Linked DNA regions of Homo sapiens: region 2 is linked to region 1. The links come from fine-mapping of genetic effects on gene expression. Tissue or cell type: cerebellum. Region 1 holds a variant in brackets; the other region holds the start of a gene. All regions are shown on one strand. Distances are between the middles of the regions.

Region 1 (8,101 bases):
CAGTGGTGCGATCTCGGCTCACTGCAACCTCCACCTCCTGGGTTCAAGCGATTCTCCTGCCTCAGCCTCCTGAGTAGCTGGGATCATAGATGCCACCACCACACCCAGCTAATTTTTGTATTTTTAGTAGAGATGGGGTTTCACCATGTTGGCCAGGCTGGTCTCGAACTCTTGACCTCAGGTGAGCCACCCACCTCAGCCTCCCAAAGTGCTGGGCTTACAGGTGTGAGCCACTGCGGATTGTCCAGAACATTTTTCGAATTAGTTGATGGAATGAGTTGATGTTCCTGGGACGGGTGTGGAGGGAGAGCTGTGCCCCTCCCTTCCGTGGACTGGAGAGGCTCACGGTAGAGCAGGCCTAGAACCCAGCTAGGCCACTGTGGTAGCAGGCCACCACCAGAGTCTACTCACTGCATTGGGAGTTCCCTTTCGCCAGGCTGGGCCCAGTCGTCTGCACCTGAACCAAAGCATGTTGCTGGCCAGAGCTCCTGGGCTAATTTCAGGACCATCAGAGTAAAGGGGCACTTCTGTCTTCAGCTCCCCTTGGACCTTGGCTCTTCTGCCTCCTTCCTACTGATAAAGGCCTACCTTTATGGCCTTTATAAAGATAGGAAATTACTTTTTTTTTTTTTTTTTTAAGATTGGCTCTTTCTGGCTGGGCACAGTGGCTCACGCCTGTAATCCCAGCGCTTTGGGAGGCCGAGGCAGGCGGACCACGAGGTCAGGAGATCGAGACCATCCTGGCTAACACAGTAAAACCCTGTCTCTACCAAAAATCCAAAAACAATTAGCTGGGCGTGGTGGGGGGTGCCTGTAGTCCCAGCTACTCAGGAGGCTGAGGCAGGAGAATGGCTTGAACCTGGGAGGCGGAGTTTGCAGTGAGCCAAGATTGTGCCACTGCACTCCAGCCTGGGTGACGGAGTGAGACTCCGTCTCAAAAAAAAAAAGACTGGCTCTTTCTCTGTTGCCCAGGCTGGAGTGCAGTGGAGCAAACACAGCTCACTGCAGCCACCACCTCCTGGGATCAAACAATCCTCCTGCCTCTGCCTCCCATGTAGCTGGGATCACAGCATGCACCATTGCACCCAGTTAATTTTTAAATTTTTTGTAGAGGTGAGGTCTCCCTACGTTGCCCAGGCTGGCCTTGAAACCCTGAGCTTAAGTGATCCTCCCACCCCGGCTTCCCAAAGTGCTGGGATTACAGGTGTGACCCACTGTGCCCAGCCCTAATTCCTTCCTTAAACAATTCCTTGTTTCAAGATCAACTGAGGGGTATGTAAGCAACAGAAATGCCTTTCTCACGCTCTGGAGGCCAGACACCCACACTCCAGGACAGGCAGGTCCGTGTCTGGTGAGGGCCCCCTCCTCGATGGCCATCTTTTCACTGTCCTCGCATGGCAGAAGGGGCAGATGAGGGCCTTGGGGCCTTTTTTTTTTTTTTTGAGACGGAGTCTTGCCTGTCACCCAAGCTTGAGTGCAGTGGCATGATCTCGACTCACTGCAACCTCCACCTCCCGGGTTCGAGCGATTCTCCTGCCTCAGCCTCCCGTGTAACTGGGACTACAGGCACGAGCCACCACACCTGGCTAATGGTTTGTATTTTTAGTAGAGATGGGGTTTCACCATATTAGACAGGATGGTCTCGATTTCCTGACCTCCTGATCCGCCTGCCTTGGCCTCCCAAAGTGCTGGGACTACAGGCATAAGCCACCACGCCCAGCCGCCTGCCTAATTTTTTATATTTTTGGTAGAGACAGAGTTTTGCCATGTTGGCCAGGCTGGTCTCAAACTCCTGACCTCAAGTGATCTGCCTGCCTTAGCCTCCCAAAGTGCTGGAATTACAGGTGTAAGCCACCACACTTGGCCTTTTTTTAAAAAAATTAAATTTTATTTTATTTTCTGAGACAGGGTCTTGCTCTGTCACCCAGTCTGGAGTGCAGTGGTGCAGTCTCGGCTCATTGCAGCCTCCACCTCCCAAGCTCAAGCAATTCTCCCACCTCAGCTTCCTGAGTAGCTGGGACAATAGGCGTGCACCACCACGCCTGGCTAATTTCTGTGTTTTTTGTAGAGATGGGAGTCTCACCATGTTGCCCAGGCTGGTCTTGAACTCCTGGGCTCCAAGTGATCCACCTGCCTCAGCCTCCCAAAGTGCTGGGATTATAGGCATGAGCCGCGGCACCTGACTGTGATGAACTGCTACAGTGAATTTTACCAACTGGTTTGGAGACATCAGATGCCGTCGATACTTTGTAAATGTTGTGCATGAGAGACACCTGTGACCTACTTCTCACACCGGTGCTGGGTCCCACTCCTAGAAATTCTGGTTCTATTGGTCTGGGGTGTGACAGTGGGTGGTTTAAAGCTCCCAGGTGATTCTAATTTGTAGCCAAGGCCAAGAACCTCTGCCCTGGAGCCTGCTCCTCAAAGTCTGCTCCCGAGAGTCCTCGCAGGGCAGAGAGCAGGCAGTCAAGGAAGGTTTCCTGGAGGAGGAGTGAAGAGGTGGCAGAGAGCATTCCAAGCAGAGGGCAGGGCTTAAGAGAAGGCACAGAACAAAAAGCACCACCAAGGGGCTCAAGAGAAGACACAGAACAAAAAGCAGCATCAAGGGGCAGGAAAGAACAAGCTTGATGTTTCTGAATGTCATAGCTGGGATACTGTGTGTGCAAATTGGAGAAGACCCAGCCTAAACAGGCTTGTGTGCAAAGGGAGTTTACTGGTGTCAGCATCAGCCCCATCTGGGAGCTGGTTTGAAAGGCAGGACCTCAGGCTCCTCCCAGGCCCCTTGAATCGGAATCCGCATTTTAACAAGATTCCTGGGTCTGCTCACTCATGTTTGAGAAGCATGGCTTTAGAAGATGAGAAATGGAAGCTAAAATTTAAGCATGTCTTTTTCATTTTCTTTTTTTGAGACAGAGTCTCGCTCTGTTGCCCAGGCTGGGGTGCAGTGGCACGATCTTGGCTCACTGCAACCTCCACCTCCCGGGTTCAATTGATTCTCCTGCCTCAGCCTCCCGAATAGCTGGGATTACAGGCACTCGTCACCACGCAGGCTAATTTTTGTATTTTTAGTAGAGATGGGGTTTTGCCATGTTGGCCAGGCTGGTCTCAAACTCCTGGCCTCAGGTGATCTGCCCACCTCGGCCTCCCAAAGTGCTGGGATTACAGATGTGAGCCACTGCACCCAGCTATTCTGTCTTTTTCCACAAGCCAGCACAGCCCATACTGTATCTGCACATCACATCTCCCAGGCTTTCTCGTCTTTGCATACAAGTCCCAGGAATGCTACTTGATGCTCGATGATGGGGCAACCCAAATTTTCCCTGCTTTACCCTCTGATCAGTAAGACCATGTCTTTTTTTTTTTTTTTTTTGAGATGGAGTCTCGCTCTGTCGCCCAGACTGGAGTGCAGTGGCACAATCTCGGCTCACTGCAACCTCTGCCTCCTGGGTTCAAGTGATTCTCCTGCCTCAGCCTCCCGAGTAGCTGGGACTACAGGCATGTGCCACCACATCTGGCTAATTTTTTGTATTTTTAATAGAGACGGG[G/T]TTGCACCGTGTTAGCCAGGATGGTCTCGATCTCCTGACCTCCTGATCTGCCCATCTCAGCCTCCCAAAGTGCTGGGATGACAGGCGTGAGCCACCGTGCCCGGCCGAGACCATGTCTTATTCATCTTTGTACATCAGCATAGTGTGTTGCAAGAATCCTGGAATGAGTTGGGTATAAAATCAGTACAGTACCCTAAAACTTAAAGCATGATAAAATAAAATAAAATAAATAATAATAATAATGAAAAAAAAGAAAACACTGATAACAACAACAACATCAACAACAAATCAGTGGCCGGGCGCAGTGGCTCACGCCTGTAATCCCAGCCCTTTGGGAAGCCGAGGGAGGCGGATCACAAGGTCAGGAATTCGAGACCAGCCTGGTCAATATGGTGAAACCCCATCTGTACTAAAAATACAAAAATTAGCCGGCTGTGGTAGCGGGTGCCTGTAATCCTAGCTACTGGTGAGGCTGAGGCAGGAGAATCGCTTGATCCCAGAAGGCGGAAGTTGCATTGAGCTGAGATCGCGCCACTGCACTCCAGCCTGGGAGACAGAGTGAGACTCCATCTAAAAAAAAAAAAAAAAGTCAGTTTGCAATTGATCATGTGGAATTCGAAATCATGGGCTCAAACGATTCTCTCACTTCACCCTCCCAAGTAGCTGGGACTACAAGTGTGCACCACCATGCCTGGCTAAAGTTTAACTTTTTTTAAGAGATGAGGGCTTGCTATGTTGCCCAGGTTGGTCTCAAACTCCTGGGCTCAAGTGATCCTCTTGTCTTGGCTTCCCAAGGTGCTGGGATTATAGGTGTGAGCCACCATACCCAGTGTAATTCTTATTTTTTTATTTTTTAGACCGAGTCTTGCTCTGTTGCCTAGGCTTGAGTGCAATGGCGTGATCTTGGCTCACTGCAATCTCTGCCTCCTGGGTTCAAGCGATTCTCCTGCCTCAGCCTCTTGAGTAACTGGGATTACAGGTGTGCACCACCACGCCTGGCTAATTTTATATTTTAGTAGAGACGGGGTTTCACCATGTTGGCCAGGCTAGTCTTGAACTCCTGACCTCAGGTGATCTGCCCGCCTCAGCCTCCCAAAGTGCTGGGATTACAGGCATGAGCCACTGCACCCAGCCTCCTGATTCTTTTTTTAAGGGACGATTAGTAAAAATAAATGTCAGCAACTTGGGAGCAGTGCTAAGCCAAGCCCTGTGTTTGCTCTACTTCCTAACCCCCAACCAAATGTAACTAAGCCACTGGGGACCTCCACCGTGTGGATACTCCCCTCCCTTCCAATTGTGAGCTCCTCAAAGATGAGGGCAATGCCGGCTCCAAAAAGCACATGACGCATGAATGAATTTGTGAGTGGGTGCAGACAACCTGTCTACACAGGTGTCAGCTTTCCTACTAGTGAAGCAAGCTCCAACAAAAGATTTTTTTTAAGGCAAAGAAAAAAGAAAAAAGAGAAAAAAGTCTCCCATAGGTTGCTTGCCTCATGTGTCCACAGAAGATAATGGATTGCGTTGAAATCCAGGAGCCTTTTCTCTGAAACCTAAGGTCTGTGAGCAGCAGAAAGCGGATGGTCGGAAGATCTGATAAAAGAGTCTAATATTCAAAACAGCCTGGTTAAATGTGCACAGCCTCGAATGCAGACGTGAGCCACATGCTCTCAGGATGCACTGACATTGTTTCGTTATCGAGATGAAGCACTAATGTTTTAGAAGAGTGATGGTGGAAGACAGCTGAAGATTTCCTGTCATTTGAGTGTTTATTTATAATCCCTCCCAGTCTCAGTCCTTGTTCCTAAAAGCGTCCGCATCAAGATGATGATTAAACACAAATACCTCATCAGGTGTCCCCTAAATCCTGGGGTACAGATGGGCAATCTGCAGGTACCTTCCCCCCTGCACAGAGGGAGCATCGAAGCTGCAACCCAGGCTGGACCAAAGGAGGACACGCCAAGCGTTCTCCTTGGGGATCCCCTGATAGGGAGGAACAAGATCCGTCCATAACTGAGTTGAGCTTTTCCTCAGGAATTCAGCTCCATCCACCTGTAACAAAAAACCCAATTTAGGGCTGTGTGCAGTGGCTCACACCTGTAATCCCAGCACTTTCGGAGGCCGAGGTGGGTGGATCACTTGAGGTGAGGAGATCGAGACCAGCCTGGCCAACATAGTGAAGCCCCTGTCTCTACTAAAAATATAAAACTTAGCCGGGTGTGATGGCGCATGCCTGTAGTCTCAGCTACTCAGGTGGCTGAGGCAGGAGGATTGCTTGAGCTTGTGGGGTTGAGGCTGCAGTGAGCCAAGATCGCGCCACTGCACTCCAGCCTGGGTGACAAAGTGAGACTCCGTCTCAAAAAAAAAAAAAAAAAAGGAAAGAAAAACAATCAAGCTATTTAGAGGAAATAATACACACGTTATTTATAAAAGTCTGAAACCAGGCTGGGCGTGGTGGCTCATGCCTGTAATCCCAGCACTTTGGGAGGTTGAGGCCGGAGGATAGCTTGAGCTCAATGGTTCAAGACCAACCTGGGCAACATGGCAAAATCCTTTCTTTGCAAAAAATACAAAAATTAGCCAGGTGTGGTGGTGTGTGCCTGTAGTCCCCGCTACTTGAGAGGCTGAGATGGGAGGATGGCTTGAGCCCAGGAGGCAGAGGTTGCAGTGAGCCGAGATCACACCAGTGCACTCCAGCCTGGGCAACAGAGCCAGACCCTGACTCAAAAAAAAAAAAAAAAAAAAAGAAAGAAACAAAAAGTCTGAAACCAAATTGCAACTTGTGCATCTTATGCAAATTGTACAGACGTCGTACGCTACTGATTACACTGAGTGGCTTTATGCACTCACTGTAGGGTTACCCTTAGGAATTTCTGATTCGAAACCCACCGAGGCAGCTCTGATTTCGCTGAGAACTCCATCGCTCTTCTCCACCTTCTCCACCGTGGCTCGGCAGTTGGCCCATCCGTACCTGGCTGCTCAATGGCTTGACTTTGACACAATAAACGGGAACTCGTTCACAATGAAGCCATCTCACGCCAAATCTATGTGTTCTACAGTGATTCCAATGCTAGTCGGGGAATAAAAGTTTAACACAGACTTTACAAAACAGGAGATTGCCAGAAACAATATTTAGGTGTTTCCTTTACCATGAATTCATGTTGGAAGGTTCTGGATGCCTAGGAAAATATAATTCGACATAACTTAATTTTTTTGTTTGTTTTTGAGATGGAGTCTTGCTCTGTCACCCAGGCTGGAGTGCAATGGTGCAATCTCAGCTTACTGCAACCTCCGCCTCCCAGGTTCAAGCGATTTTCTGCCTTAGCCTCCTGAGTAGCTGGGATTACAGGCACGCGCCACCACACCTGGTTAATTTTGGTATTTTTAGTAGAGACGGGGTTTCACCATGTTGGTCAGGCTGGTCTCGAACTCCCGACCTCAGGTGATCCACCCACCTCAGCCTCCCAAAGTGCTGGGATTACAGGCGTGAGCCACCACGCTGGACCTCGCACGTCCTTCTTCTAAAGCATCAGCCGTTGGCGGCAGAGCCCGCTCGAATCCAGCACGTCCTCTTCTTCACTAATTACAGCCAGTCCTCACTATAGGCTTTTGGAAACTGCAACTTTAAGGAAAACGACATGTAACAAAAACTATTTTTTTTCCTTGTTAACATTATAATGAAACAACAAACAACCTAATCTGAAGACCTGTTTTACTTTGTTTTGCTTAAAGTCAGTTTCCAAAGATCCACTGATGATGTTAAATGAAAACTTCACATCTTATTTTGTAGAGATGGGGTCTCGCTATGTTGCCTAGGTTGGTCTCAAACTCCTGGGCTTAAGTGTTCTCCCCCACCTCGGCCTTCCAAAGTGCTAGGATTATAGGCGTGAGCCACCTTGCCCGGCCCTTTTTAATTTTTAGTTAATTAATTATTATTTTTTATTTTTAGAGACAGGGTCTCGCTCTATCACTCAGGCTGGAGTGTAGTGATGCAATCATGGGTCACTGCAGCCTGGAACTCCTATGCTCAAGCAATCTTCCCGCCTCAGCCTCCCAAGTAGCTGGAACTACAGGGCGCCACCACAGCTGGCTCAGGAAAGGGCGTTCTAAGGAGGAGACATTTAAGCTGAAACCTTGTGAGTGAGAAGCAGCCAGGCATGTGAAGAGGGTTCCAGCAATACAGAACATGCTGCCCAAAGGCCCCGGGCCGGGAAAGAACTTGAATTGTTGCCAGCACTGGAAGAAATCCAGAATGCTGGGCTTGCTGAGCTTTGGTGAGGAAGTCACAGAGGCAGGGCGTCCCAGGCCTTGCTGGGGGAGGTCCTGAGCCCAGGTTGTCGGATAAAATGTAGGGCTCCCAGTTAAATTTTTTTTTTTTTGAGACAGAGTCTTACTCTGTCACCCAGGCTGGAGTGCAGTGGCGAGATCTTGGCTCACTACAACCACTGCATCCCAGGTTCAAGCGATTCTCCCGCCTCAGCCTCCCAAGCAGCTGGGATTACAGGCACCCACCACCACGCCTGGCTATTTTTTTGTATTTTTATAGAGATAGGGTTTTG
Region 2 (8,101 bases), 970 kb after region 1:
CTCAATACTTGTTTCCTCCTTTTCCTCACTCTCCCTTGCCTAAACCGCCATAGATCATCCCCTTTATGGGTCTTTTCAAAGAGCTGGTTTTATCTATCAGAATTTTAAAATATACTCTAGCTCATTCGTTTTTGCCTCTTGTAGTTGCTTGCTTTTTCTGGGAGAAAGTGGTTTATCATTTCCAGTGCCTGGAGTTGGTTCAGCTATTTTCTGTCTCTTCTTCTCTGCTAATGAAAGCCAACTGGAGGGCGGCTACCCACTTCTGGGTATGTCCCTGCCCTACCCTGTCATCTGAGACCCCCGGCTGCCCCTGACAGTGGCCGATGGTGTGGTTTTATAACCTTCAGCGCTAATGCCTCTAGACCAAGGACAGCCTGGAGAAATGCTTCGAAAATGCCACATGCTCAGGGTTTTACAGGTGGCCTTTTGTTTCTCAACTTTGATTTTATTACACTGTGGCCAGTGTGGCCTGAAGATTGTTCTTTTAATTATTAAAAAAAAATGGGCATGTGCATGAATAGTCAAATTGTATTACACGACTTATAATAAAAACAGAAGCCCTTGCCGTACCACTTCTCAGCCACATGCTGTTCTCCAGACAACCCTTTTATCACTTCCTGCACTTAACTCTGGTATTTGTCTGTCTTTCTGACTGATAGGTTTATATGGGTTATTCTTCGCATACCACGGTTAGACACTGTGTATACATGTCCTCTTATGAACGACAGGGATTGCCCTCACACACCCTAATGTTCTTCTCATCATCATCAGTATAGCTGTGTCACAAGTATAATTTTTATTAGTTTGATTGTCTTTACATTATTTTGACTCTGTAAATATTGTGACTGCTGAGCCAAATAGTGAACTATAGTAACTTTTTTTCTAATAACTCTTCATTTTTCCTGGAGTTCATAGTTGCCTTTTCTATTTTGATTGGCTTCGTTTTTCATCTCTGATCATATCTCACTCATTTGTTCCAACTTTACCAGCACAACTGGTCAACCCTTTCCAATACTGTTGTTTTTACAGAATCAAACACATTGGACAATCCATCAGTTTTTTCTCTCCACTTTGTGAAGATTTCCGCTCAGGACCTCATTGTTACTGCTTGGAGCAGATGCTTTGTAGGCCTCTGGATTTGGAGATTGTGGGGCAGGTTAACTCTGCCAGATTGGGGGCCACTGATGAGTTTGTCCCTCTGCCCATTCCAGGGATCCTAAGATGGTTCCCAGGAGCAGGTGACCTCATTGTATTGAGGGTAAGGCTCAGAGTCCACAGCCCCTCCTCCACGTCCTTCTAAAGCAGTGCTCTTAGGGAGGATTTCTCTTTTTTAGAGCTGGGATCTTGCTCTGTTGCTCAGGCTAGTCTCAACCTACTGGGCTCAAGCTGTGCTGCCACCTCAGCCTCCTGAGTAGCCGGGACTATTGGCTTCCCTGAGAAGCCTGATGCTTTAGTGGGGAAGGTGTTTAGAGACCAAGACGTGGGTGCTGGGGTGCCCGTTACTACTGGGGTGCTGCAGCTTCTCAGCCCCTCAGCCGGCAGAGTTAGGAAATACATGGCTGTTCAGGAAGCCACGCAATGGGGAGGAATGAACTGTGGACAGCTGGGGACCCTCGTAGGCCACAGTGCACCGTGCCAGTGTTAGCAGCTGCCACATCCGCCCCACACTCCTTGCCCCTGCTGTTTTGCCATGACGCAGATCCCAGGCATCACATTCCTGCATTTGGAAATGCCTCCTCGTACACCTGAAGACAGGCCTTTGCAACAACACGACGCCAACACCACATCACACCCGAAAACCCAGGCGACTTTCACACAGGGCCTTCGCAACAACACGACACCAACACCACATCACACCCGAAAACCCAGGCGACCTTCACACAGGGCCTTCGCAACAACACGACACCAACACCACATCACACCCGAAAACCCAGGCGACCTTCACACAGGGCCTTCGCAACAACACGACACCAACACCACATCACACCCGAAAACCCCGGCGACTTTCACACAGGGCCTTCGCAACAACACGACACCAACACCACATCACACCCGAAAACCGAGGCGACTTTCACACAGGGCCTTCGCAACAACACGACGCCAACACCACATCACACCCGAAAACCCAGGCGACTTTCACACAGGGCCTTCGCAACAACACGACGCCAACACCACATCACACCCGAAAACCCAGGCGACTTTCACACAGGGCCTTCGCAACAACACGACACCAATACCACATCACACCCGAAAACCCAGGCGACTTTCACACAGGGCCTTCGCAACAACACGCACCAACACCACATCACACCAGAAAACCGAGGCGACTTTCAGACAGGGCCTTCGCAACAACACGACACCAACACCACATCACACCCAAAAACCGAGGCGACTTTCTTCACGTCCATGTTAGTAATGCCTTTTCTCAGCTGTTTGTCCACACAAGGGCTGGCCACGTTAGGTGGACGCCCGTGTGCTGTCTCCCTGCTTCAGGTCCTGCTGGATCAGTTCCCCAGTGGCCGCTCTGCCTGCCATTCTGCCTACCTGGCTACCAGTCGCTGTGGGCTGGGGGTGAGAGCTCACAGCTGGATCAGAACCCCCTCTGTGGCCCCCCTCGGGAGGTGGCTGCCTTCTCCCACCTTGCATCGGAGGCGAGATTGTGCAGGGACCAGAGGCTGCCCTGGTCTGCCTGTGAGAAAGCCCCTGGGTGGTTGCTGCCAAGGAGCATGGCTGGGCCTGCGAGACAGGGTGCCCCGATCTGCCTGGAAGTTTTCTGTCCAGGCCGCCCTCCCTCATCGCCTCTGTCCCGTGTTGGCTGCTTGGAATGCGTCTCTCTGGACCTCATCTGGGATAAACAGCTGCTTCTCTCCCCTTACTCCTCAGCTGTGGGGGAACGCTGGTTTCCAGGCCCACTCACAGGATTTTTAATGTTCCGCCCAGACCTTGCTAACACCTCTCAGCGGCTAAGCCTATTTCTGTAGATTCTCTTACTTATGTTTTGTTTTTAAATTTTCTATGTAGTCAATCTTTTTTACATTTCAAACCTTTTAACCTTTGTTTTTCTCCTAAGAATTGTATAGTAAAACCCGCACGGGGACCGCCTGGATGCCGTAGGTTCTGTTCACGGGGTTTGCTGCGTTGTTACGTAGTGGGTCTCCTCGCCCGTGTCCCCCGTCCCTGCGTCGGTGCTTCAGCGCACATCAGGGTGGGGCTGGTGTCAATGCTTCCCACATCATTAGCTGGAACTCACCGCACACTGCGTCTTTCCCTCCATAAAGAACTTGCACGAGCCCCATCAAGGTATAGGGAGTGGCCGTCACCCCAGAAAGTCCCGTCATCCCCACTCGTCACCGCCCGCATTTGTACAGAGATACAGCTGTCTTGTTCTAAGGGCGAGTCCCTGTGAGAACGCGTGGAGCGTTTTGTCCCTGCCCCCACACACTCCGCCGGGGGGTTTGGCTTTGTGCCGGTGCCTGGCTGGCGGGTGAACTTTCCACAGGGCCTGCCTTGTCCACGTCTCTGCAGGGAGCGCAGGTCCGTGTGCCCACCCAGGAGGTCTTGGACCCAGCAGCCCCTCAAGAAGGGCTATGGCGACTGTTCACCGCAGGAGGGCTCTGCGCTGTCTGAAAAGGGGAACAGAATGCCCCAGTGGAAGCAGATTTGCAGGTGATATTAGGGAAGCTTCCTCCTGCCTTCTACTTACCTGGACTTCTTATCCTCCAAGGCGCTTGACTCACAGTCTTACCTCCTTGAGTTGCCTCCAGAAGAAAATGGTCTTTGTTTTACTGAGTTCCTTCTAAGCGCAGTCTGTGATGGGGCCCGTTCTGTCCTGTCCTCGCCCTGCTGAGCACTGAGACAGAGACCCAGGCGACCTGCTGACCGAGGCCAGCTCACGAGCCTGCTCTGGGCCACGTGGTGCCGAGTTGCTTCCTCCTTCAGGCTCTGATGACACTGAAGCTCCCCGGGGAGAACAGCGGTGTCCTTTGCTGCTGGAGATGCCTGCAGATGCTTGCTCTGGGCATGCAGGGGCCCCTGGGGAAGGATCCGCGCCTGGCTCCCTCTCTCCATCTGTCCCTCGTTTTGGACGGGAAGTCGACTATCATTCCTGACGTTCCAGTGTAACGTGTTATGTTTCTCTGATGGCTTTGGGGATTTTATCTTCCGTTGCCAGTTTCTTGACTATGATATGCCTACTTTTTACCAAATTTGGATAATTTTTGCCAATATTTGGGGGGGTTGCCCCATGTTCTTTCTCCTCTCCTGTGGCTCCACGGACATGGACATCAGGCCTCTCCCTGCCTTCCACGAGCTCCTGGGCCCTGTGCTTCTGTGTGGTGTTTTCTAAAAGCCTCTCATCTCTAGAATGAGTCACTGTGGCTGCTATGTCTTCGTGTTCACTGCCTTTTCTTTCGTTCTTCACTCTGCTGCTGAGCTCAGCCAGGGGCATTTGTGCTCTGGAGATTTTAGTTCTTGCTCTGGAGTGGGCCTGGCCTTCCTCCGAGGCTCTGTGTCTCTGCTCAGCTCTCCAGCCCGCCTGCCTGGCAAGCACGTTTTCCTGTGCTTTCCGGTCCTGATGCTTTCCTGCGTCCGTGTGGAGCCAGCGCTTGGGGTGTGGTGTGTAGAGAGGGGAATGTGGACATGCAGTGCGTGCTGTGGGGGCTGACGGGCTGGGGCCGGTGTGGATGTCGTGTCGGGGGCCGAGCCAACGGGCCAGGGCCAGTGTGGATGTCATGTTGGGGGACGACGGACTAGGGCCAGTGTGAATGTCTTGTTGGGGGCCCAGCTGACGGGCCAGGGCTGGTGTGGATGTCCTGTTGGGAGCCGACAGGCTGGGGCCATTGTGGATGTCGTGTTGGGGGCTAAGCCGACGGGCCAGGGCCGGTGCAGATGTTGTGCTGGGGGCCGACAGGCTGGGGCCAGTGTGGATGTCCTGTCCAGCAAGGCCCTGGAGGTGGTGTCCGGGCAGTCTTGACCGAGGCCGGAAGGATGGTGCCGGGGGCAGGAGCCTGACTGCCTCGGAGGAAGGGGGTCCCGGGGCGGAGCTGTGGGGTGGGGAGCCCATTGTGGATGCTGGCTGCTTCACCCTCACCCCCACGTTCTGTCTGTGGGTCTCCGTGAGGCTCCTCCCAGGGCGGCCCTGCCACATGATGTAGCTGAAACCCAGTCCTCTCTGCACACCAGTGTTTCTAGGAAAACACTTCCTGTCTTTCTCCCCAAGACCTCCAGGACGTGGGCCTGAGGTCATCACTGCCTCCTTCAGTTGCTGCTGCCCGAGGCCCCCAAGAGTGACCCACATGAGACTGCGGTCCAGACGCCCTCCCTGCCTCTGAGGGCGCACACTGTCCAGAGCGGGTCTGTGGGTGGAATGCCCCCAGCGGCCTCCGGGCCCCTTGTCTGTGGGGCCTGTGCCCTGGTGCTGCCGGCACTGCTGTCCTCACGCGAGCGCTGGAGATATGAGCTTTCCCAGGGGGGCTCAGCAGTGATGAAGGTGGGGCAGGAGCTGTGTGTGTCCACCATAGGTCCTGACAGAGATGAAGCAGAGGCCACAGGGCTGCCCTGCCCCCTGCCGCGGGCATGTGGGGTGATTCCCGCCCACTTCTCAGGTGTGCCAACCCCCACGTTCCTTCCCTGTGAGTGTGTGAGCTCACATAGCCCCTGGACACACCACCCTCCACGTGGGGTGGATCGTGCCTGTTGGCCACACTGAGCACACCTGGAAACGCCGACTGCCGAGTGTCAGGGGAGGGTCTGGAAAAGCCGCGAGTGAAAACAGACTGTCCCCCGAGACTGTGTGGTGAGGGGAACACCTGATTCTGCAGCCTGGGAGTCCACGCCGACATGCCGACTGCCCACACAGGTGTCACAGCAGGGATGTGGATGCTACTGTGCTGTGCGGGCTCCAGCCCAGGAGGCCCCGTGGGAGGAGCAGGTGCCGAGAGCTCGTCCCACCGCTACTCGGGAGTGAGACCCACATCCCACAGGTGTCTCTGAGCAGGCGCCCACCCCAGGACTGGCTGAGAGTCAGGGTGCACCCCAGGGCACTGGCCCCACGTGAGAGTCGGGGTGCGCCCCGGGATGCCGGCCCCGCGTGAGAGTCGGGGTGCGCCCCGGGACGTCGGCCCCGCGTGGTCACTTAAATTCACATCCAAGTGAACCAAAGTTAAATGTGATTTAAAATGTGCTTCTCAGCCACGCAGGCTGCCTTTGAGTGCCTCAAGGCCTGAAGGGCCGGGGCCCTTGAGGCACACCCCGTGACCCAGGACAGCTCCGTGGGCACAACGTCCCCGCAGCCCACGATGGCCAGCACTTTTCTGGGGTCTCATGAGTCCCTTGGAGGCTCGGCACACTTCAGCCATTTTTCATGCCCGGGACACAAAAGACAAAGAAATGGTCAGGTGTGGTGCCCACCAGCCTGACTTAGGTGAAATACTTGGAACACATTAATCCTAAACACTCTTTGCCGCGAAGTCTAATTTCCGTGGACGGGAAGCATTTTCGTATTTATCCAAAACCAATAAAGATAGCTAAGGTCATTACTGCGGATTTGTTTCCCAAGAGCTGGTGACACCTGCACAGAGCTGAGCCACAGGGACACCTGGGGCTAGGAAGTCTGGTTGTCACGGCAACCAAGTACGAACAAGCCGCGCGGCCGGGCGCAGGGGTCACTGAGGCCACTTCCTGTTTCTCGGCAGCGCCCACGGACAGCCTTAAAATATGTAACAGTCCACGAAATTCCTCATAACTGAGAGCGTGCAGTTAACGTAATTTTATCTAAAGCACGAAAGCCCTTAACCAGCACTTTCAGAGATGTCTGGTTACTAGAAAATGCCCTCCCATTTGCCATCTGATCTCTGGTTTAACCCAGCCAGCCGCCCCGCGCCACGTCCCGACGCCATGTCCCCAGCTCTGCACCTGTATGTCTTGCGGGCAGCAGAAGGGCGGCCCTCCTGTGAAACGTCCTCAGGACGTGAGACATGGCCAGCGGGCAGACGCAGCTGTGAAGCTCAGGCCGGTTCTGGAGGTTCCTGTGCAGAGCTTGGCTCTGGGTGACCACAGGCCAGGGAGCTGCAGTCCACTCCAGACACAGCCTGGTCAATCCCAGAGGAGGGAAGGAGCCCACGGTCAGGAGGAGGCCGGGGGTGCCGGGCGAGCACAGCAGTACTCCTGTCCCCTGGGACACCTCTGGGGTGGGGCTGACATCAGGACCTCCCAGCACCCCTGCAAACAGCCCCGGTACGGGGGCAGGCATGTCTCTTAGGGGAGGGCAGCCCTGCCTGGTCATCTCCAGTGAGCCGGAGGGGTCAGCGGGCCTGGACAAGCCCCTAGAACGGCACCTGCCCGCAGCACACACGTGTGGCATTTCTTCACGTGGGCCTGCGCCCGCCCACAGCGCACACGTGTGGCATTTCTTCACGTGGGCCTGCGCCCGCCCGCAGCGCACACGTGTGGCATTTCTTCACGTGGGCCTGCGCCCGCCCGCAGCGCACACGTGTGGCATTTCTTCACGTGGGCCTGCGCCCGCCCGCAGCGCACACGTGTGGCATTTCTTCACGTGGGCCTGCGCCCACCCGCAGTGCACACATGTGGCATTTCTTCACGTGGGCCTGTGCCCGCCCGCAGTGCACACGTGTGGCATTTCTTCACGTGGGCCTGCGCAGCATGTGCTCTGCGTGGCCACACCATGGCTGTGTGTTGCCCATGTGCTTGGGGGAGGTGAGATGGTGGTGACCCGTCCCCCATGGTACCGGCATGAGAGTGGCTTTGGGCCTGGTTCCCCACAGGATTGCTTCTGTGTGCTGGGCTGCAGATGGCCCCATACACGTGACTTTAGCTCTGCCTTCAAGATGAGTTTGCAGCATGGCAGCCCCTGGGTGGCGTCTCCATCCCCGACGCTGAGCAGTACTCATGCTCTCAGAGCTCGCTGCGCAGAGAAATAGCCGTAACAGACCCGGAGCTCAATATTCAGGGGATCCCAGAGCTGGCTGTGCAGAGCAATGGCCATAACAGACCCGGAGCTCAACACTCAGAGGATCTGCGAGGGGACACCCGGGAGGTGGCTAGTTGCCAGGAGAGGGGTGTTCCTGACATACCTTCATTTGCT

Evidence for each region. PIP is the estimated chance that this variant, and not a neighbour inherited with it, causes the effect.
Region 2: LMF1-AS1 starts here. The variant in region 1 is fine-mapped to the expression of LMF1-AS1 in cerebellum (GTEx, PIP above 0.99).

The regions. Positions count from the first base shown.
Region 1 is chr16:1,887,626-1,895,726 of GRCh38, reverse strand. LINC02124 (long intergenic non-protein coding RNA 2124) reads right to left here and starts at 6,613. Exons shown (of 2, transcript NR_146568.1): 1 at 6,432-6,613; 2 at 5,293-5,594. The variant G/T (reference allele first, on the strand shown) is at 3,546.
Region 2 is chr16:916,812-924,912 of GRCh38, reverse strand. It overlaps LMF1-AS1 (LMF1 antisense RNA 1), which reads right to left and starts at 3,880. Exons shown (of 2, transcript NR_110946.1): 1 at 3,746-3,880. The region is part of intron 3 of LMF1 (lipase maturation factor 1); the gene reads left to right. RefSeq lists an enhancer at 7,941-8,101.